Homo sapiens: one gene and its partner. The protein of the gene in region 1 interacts with the protein of each later gene in a biochemical or structural test. Each region holds a gene or a part of one and is shown in the gene's direction. Other genes may lie near its edges.

What was found.
Region 2: the proteins of GRID2IP (region 1) and ATP2A2 interact in a test that uses a peptide from one of them, tested with the Homo sapiens proteins (one large-scale study listed by IntAct).

Annotation. Positions count from the first base shown.
Region 1 is NC_000007.14:6,496,278-6,499,461, reverse strand, and holds the end of GRID2IP (delphilin), read left to right. Parts: intron 1-1,233; coding exon 1,234-1,398; intron 1,399-1,616; coding exon 1,617-1,688; 3' UTR 1,689-2,684; downstream 2,685-3,184.
Region 2 is NC_000012.12:110,343,747-110,347,246, forward strand, and holds part of ATP2A2 (sarcoplasmic/endoplasmic reticulum calcium ATPase 2), read left to right. Parts: intron 1-1,139; coding exon 1,140-1,225; intron 1,226-1,502; coding exon 1,503-1,636; intron 1,637-2,254; coding exon 2,255-2,372; intron 2,373-2,454; coding exon 2,455-2,724; 3' UTR 2,725-3,500.

The DNA of each region.
Region 1 (3,184 bases):
GAGACTCTGTCTCAAAATTAATTAATTAATTAATTAAAGGCAGCCTCTGCAAAGGAAATTGACCTGGCACATCAGACAGGCATAGGCCCAAATCCTGGCTCATTTCCTTACCTGCTGTGGGACTATGGGCAAGTCAGTTACCCTCTGTGAGCCCAGTTTTCTCATCAGGAAAAAGAGGGGTCATGAGAACCTCTACCACAGTGGTCATTAATTGATGTGACCCTGGTGGGTTCAACCGTGGCTCAGGCACCACAGTGCTTGCTGTGTGATCTTGGGCTAGTTGCTAAAGTCCTGTGTGCTTTAATTTGTTCACATGTAAAATAGAGATAATCTACCTCATAGAGGTGTTAAACGATGATTCAACAAGCTTGGAACAAAGCTCGGCACCATTTTAAGTGCTGAAAAAATGATAGCGATTCAGCCACTGAATCTTTTTGCAAGACTGACCATGTATCAGATGCTATTCTAAGCCCTGGAGGTGCAAGGAGGGAGCGAGCTTTCACTTAGGCAGTAGGAAATGAACTTATGAACAATTTCAGATCATGACAAATGCTCTAGAAAACAGAGTAAGGCCTAAGGCCAGGTGCAGTGGCTCACACCTGTAATCCCAGCACTTTGGGAGGCCAAAGTGGGAGGATCACTTGAGCCCAGGAGTTTGAGACCACCCTAGGCAACATACACCCCATCTCTATTTTAAAAATCAAAAAATTAGCTGGGTATGGTGGTGTAAACCTCTGGTCCCAGCTGCTCGGGAGGCTGAGGTGGGAGGATCACTTGAGCCTGGGAGGTAGAGGCTGGAATGATCTGTGAGCTGTGATCACACCACTGCACTCCAGGCTGAGCGACAGAATAAGACCCTGTCTCAAAAAAAAAAAAAAAAAAAAAAAAAGTAAGGCCTAGAGAGTGACAGAGGGGCCTACTGTAAATGAGTGGTTGGGGAAGAAGGTGGCAGTGGAAGCCTCTGATCAGAGACCCAGGGCCTGGCCCTGCAGAGAGAACAGGGGTGAATGGCCTGAGGCTGCACTGGCTGTGGCCAGTTCCAGGATGAGTTCAGTGGCCAGTGGGACTAGAGTCCCTGAACAGGGCCTGGTTCCCTGTTGGACACAGGGCCTGGCCCTTGGAAGGACTCAGGCCAACCGGGAATAGGGCTGCTAGGGACCTGTCTGTCGGGCCACCACCTGAGACCCTGGGGGCACAAGCGGGCTGGCTGTTTCCTTAACTGAGGCCTGTCAGTCCTTCCTGGAGACGGCCCAGCCAGCACTTCGGGCGCTCGACGGGCTGCAGCGCGAGGCCATGGAGGAGCTGGGCAAGGCGCTGGCCTTCTTTGGGGAGGATTCCAAGGCCACCACCTCTGAGGCTTTCTTCGGCATCTTTGCAGAGTTCATGAGCAAATTCGAGGTGAGCCTCGCTGGAGCCCTGAGGGGCCCTTTTGGAGAGGTGGGGGCCAGAGGCCAAATGAAGGGATCCTCCATGAAGCCAGGGCTGGGAAAGGGGCTCCAGTGAGCGACATGTCCCCCTAACCCCCTGATGGGCTGTCTAGTGTGGGAAGAGACAGGGAAGGCGTCACAGGTTCCTGGGACCACTGACCACCCTACCTCTGTGTTCCCCCTCCCCAGCGAGCGCTGAGTGACCTGCAGGCCGGGGAGGGCCTGCGCAGCTCCGGGATGGTTTCACCCCTGGCCTGGTGACAGTGGCCACACCGCGTCCTCTGCGGCCTGAGCAGGGAGATGGAGGCCGAGAGGGCAGCCCAGACACTGCCGAGGTCCGGGGCCACTGTGCCCCGGGCTCTGAGCACACCGCCAGCCTCTCCTGCAGCTACCTCAGCCGCCGAGCTGTGGTCGGGCCCTCCTCTGCCAGCCCTTGTTCCTACCCCCAGGCCCAGAGCCAGATGCTGTAGGAGCAGGTGCTGAGTGTGCCTGCACATGGAGGACCGTGCTCTGTCGGCTTCTTGGGCCCACTTCCCACTTCGCTCCCAGGCTGTCAGGGGGGCCTGGAGGGTGGATTACAAAGTGGCCACATTCCTGGGACATGTGGACCTTTTTTCTGATCCTGCTCCTAGTGGGTCCCTGTGAGGGGGCCGACACCCTTGAGCACGACCCTGCAGGCAGGCGCGAGACGCGAGAGGGCAGAAAGCCGGATGTAGAGGGGCCCTGGGGATGTGCACGCCCAGCCTGGGCCTTGGAAGCTGGCTTCAGGGACACAGGAAGAGAGAAGCCTGGGAGAGACGCAGGGAAGGAAGGACTGGAGAAGGAAGACCCCCTATGTCAGACTGCGGAATTGAGGTTTCATGCAGTGGACAAACCCAAACCTGTGTAGAGGTGGCCCAATTGGAAGTGGGGAGCCTGGGAGTGGAATAGGTGTGGTCAAGGTAGAGCAGACAGAATGGGGAGGTGTTGAGGCAGGAGGTGAGCAGGATCTGGTGGCCAACTGCCAGACTTCTCACCTGGACGGATGGTGATGTTCCCTGGAGCAAGTCATGAGACCGGGGCAGGTGTGGGGGCAGATGACACAATCTGGGATGTGTTTGGGACCCAAATGGTCATTTTACATGTGCCTAGGCATATAGCAGGAGTTACCTGGATACCAGGAGCAGGAGCAGGTGGCGTGGTGGGCAGGGAGGGAGGGTGTGTGAACTGTTTCACCTTTTTTAAAATTCTCTGATTGACAGATCCTTGGATCAGACAGCTTCCCTCGTTGCACTTTTTTTTTTTTTTTTTTTTGGAAAAGTCTGAAATGGGCTTTAATCCTGTCTCATGGATTCTTTTTCTCCCACTGCAATCAAATGGCTTACATTGCACCTGGGCAGTACTGGGAACCTGTTCAGTTCTTCCCAGTCTCCCCTAGGCCCCTCTTGGAAGCCACCTTTGTTTTTTTGTTCCTTGCACACAAGCACCATACAAAAACATCAAAACCAAAATATATACTGCAAGGGGGATGTGGCTAGTGGGGTACATTTCACCCTAGCAGCTCAAGCAGAATTGTTTCCAAAAGTTCCCAGTGCCTGTGTCTCTGGGAAACATGTCAGGAGGTCAGTTAAAACCTCTGCAGGCAGGGCGTGGGGGCTCACGCCTGTAATTCCAACACTTCGGGAGGCTGAGGCAGGTGGATCACCTGAGGCCAGAAGTTCAAGACCAGCCTGGCCAACATAGTGAAGCCATATCTCTACTAAAAATACACAAAATTA
Region 2 (3,500 bases), on another chromosome or scaffold:
TCATAGGTGGGATTTAAATAGATAATTGTCACCAAGTTATAAAATTTAGTCCCTGTTTCCATAAGAGAAGGGTTGCGCAGTGGCTGGTCCCTTTTATATATAAATCATCTCTTTAGCCCTCATCTTCCTCACCCCGGGTTCTTCCCCATTTCATAGATTGGGAAAGTGAGGTGAAATCACTTCCCTGGGATCCCATAGGAAGGCATTGTGTTTTCATAATATATTCACATGACTTCAAATTCAAAAAGCACACAATGGCATAGAATGGAAAGGGTTTGGGCCAGTCACTTCCCTCTGGCGTTGAGGTGCTCATGTACCCTGTGCCCTTCCGGAGAGATTCCAGCATGCTGTGCACACCTGCATGTTGACCCTTGTCTTGCCTTCTTCCTGCTTGTCAGATCCTTCCATATCCGGACATGCGTAGTGCCTCATCCTTGCAGCCAGCGGCCTTCATGCTCCACTGTAATTCGTGGGTTAGTGGGTATATGCACTTGTTGTTTTTGATGCTACCACATGGGGATATTTGCCTCGTCTGAACTCTGTGTATTCTCTGCTGCACCTTGTTGCTTCTTTGCAATAAACTTCCTGAACTCAAAGCTAATACTGGGGGGAATCCCAGAAGCTGCTGAGGGCAGGGCCATGCTGCTCAGTGTTCCACCCTAGCTCCTGACAGCATTTCCCTAGAAAACTGCTGCTGGGCCTCTAATGGAGCAAATAAATCTGTGTACAACTAGGCAGCAATAGTTTGTCCAAAAGTCCTGGTGTAATCTAGTCCCTCAAACTGTGCAGCCTTACATGGAGTACACACACACTTGCAGCCTTGAAGTACTACCCACTGAGGGGAGAAGGCACGGCAAGGGGAAAGGTTGGCACAGGATGGAGCAAGTGCTTTTTCTCACACATTCTGGAGGAAAAGTTATCCAGTTCTTCTGTTCTAGAAACACCCCTGTCCTTCAGAAACCAGGGTCTAGTTGCTCTGGCTACCAGGCGTGAGCAGGTGGTGGTAGCACCACAGGCCCCGGTTACCATCACTGTCCCATGTCTTTGATCTTCGTCCTTGTGGGGACTGGCCTGCATGGCCTCGGTGGCAGCGAGCCCTGCAGAGGCAAGTGCATCAGCATCACTGTGTTTGTTCCCAGGTTACGTCGGCGCTGCTACCGTGGGTGCTGCTGCATGGTGGTTCATTGCTGCTGACGGTGGTCCAAGAGTGTCCTTCTACCAGCTGGTACTCAGTCACCTTTCTTTCTGTACCTTACATGAGAAGTGTTGTGAGGCCTTGACCTTTCTGTGGTTTCGGTATCTATCAAATCATCTTAAGACTCAGACAATAAACAGTTACATCTAAGATGATTCTGAAGGACCAGGGCTTCTCCGAGAAATTGGGGTAAACCTCTTGGCTGGCTCTGCATTCAGGCTGGTCTGTGCTAGGCTTGGTATGGGGTTGGAGCCTGGACTTGGGAAATATACTGGGCTGATAGGAATTTGATTGGATTTTCTTGCAGAGTCATTTCCTACAGTGTAAAGAGGACAACCCGGACTTTGAAGGCGTGGATTGTGCAATCTTTGAATCCCCATACCCGATGACAATGGCGCTCTCTGTTCTAGTAACTATAGAAATGTGTAACGCCCTCAACAGGTTAGTGCACCTTCACGGCAGGCTGAGGCGAGCATGGTGACTGCCAGGGCACCGGGGAATTGTGTGTAGTCACGGTTGATTGAGGATCACAGGACAGTTCTTCCCTTCCCAAAAGAAAGGAGAACAGGCAATACCAGTTTTAAAAGCATGAGCTGTCGTCACCTCCAGGAAGTAGTGGGAGTGCTTAGCCCTGTGTTTCTTAGGAGCTCTTCCTTAAAAGAAACCGTGGGGGCCAAAAATAGGAACTTTGGTACCCCTGTATGCCAGCACCCACAGGGAAGGAACCTCACCCTTTCACACAGACAAATGGTACCATCCAGTTAAGCCCGTGACAAAAATGGAAATTTCTAAATAGCCCAAGTCTCCAGGGCAATTGGGAACAGCTTTGAACCCACTAAGATGGGGTCTGCTATGCCAAAACATAGATACAGAATTCACAGTTTGTCCTGCATTAGGACATTCTCTTCAACTTTGCCACTGTAGAAAGTGGAGGTAGGTCAGCGGATGGTGCCACATTAACAGCCGCCTTACTGAAGTGTAGTCCAACAGGGTCTTACTGCCACTGTGACACGTGCCTTGCCTTGGGGGTGCGTTTCCCCACCTCTCCTTGCTCTGCAGCTTGTCCGAAAACCAGTCCTTGCTGAGGATGCCCCCCTGGGAGAACATCTGGCTCGTGGGCTCCATCTGCCTGTCCATGTCACTCCACTTCCTGATCCTCTATGTCGAACCCTTGCCAGTAAGTGGTTGGGTGGGGCTTGGGACCAGCCACCTCCTTCCAGGGGAGGCTGGAGGCGTGACACGTCTTCCCTGTGTGTCAGCTCATCTTCCAGATCACACCGCTGAACGTGACCCAGTGGCTGATGGTGCTGAAAATCTCCTTGCCCGTGATTCTCATGGATGAGACGCTCAAGTTTGTGGCCCGCAACTACCTGGAACCTGGTAAAGAGTGTGTGCAGCCTGCCACCAAATCCTGCTCGTTCTCGGCATGCACCGATGGGATTTCCTGGCCGTTTGTGCTGCTCATAATGCCCCTGGTGATCTGGGTCTATAGCACAGACACTAACTTTAGCGATATGTTCTGGTCTTGACTGACAGTTTTCCATAAAGAAGATGTTTAACTTAATCAATTAATTTTTTTATTGTTTAAAGCAACTGTCTATTTCTGCTGAATTTTCACATGAACATACTGGCTGGTGATGGAGGTTTCATACTCTAGATTTTGTTTTGCTTTTTCTGACTCCAGTGGGGCAAGATTTTCCTTTTTTATACACATAATTAAAGTGTCCATTGACATGTACAGAGAACTAACACTATTTTATGCAAATATTTTTTTGTAGATGAAAAAGCATGTACAGTGTTCTGTTTAATACTCATCCTTGTATAAAAAAAATAGTTGAGCCAGCAGACATTGTCAGCAAATTAATTGGCAGCAGATTTTAGGAAATGAATGTGTGTGGTTTTTTTTCTAAAACTAAATAGCATGTATTGTGTCTTTTGCATGATGATCCGGATTTAATTTGATATCACAGTCTAATTTTTATTCATAAGCCAATTTTTCTGCACTGAGCAGAGTCTTGCTACCTCAGTCAGTATTGTTTTGGTTTGCTACTTCCCTCACCCACTTTGGCCTCCGTTCACCCCACCCCACCCCACCTCTCCCCACCTTACCCCCGCCCCGCTTGGCTTCTTCTTTAGGATTGTGATGGTTCGTTCTGTTTACATCAGTTTTAACGAGAGGTATGCCTGTACTCGCTTGTGCAGAAAACATTGTTCCAGATTCAATCGACTGGGTTTATGTCCCTTCACATAGTTTTTAAGGTTATTTATTTAAATGTCTAATGTATTTTATTGTAACAGACATTGT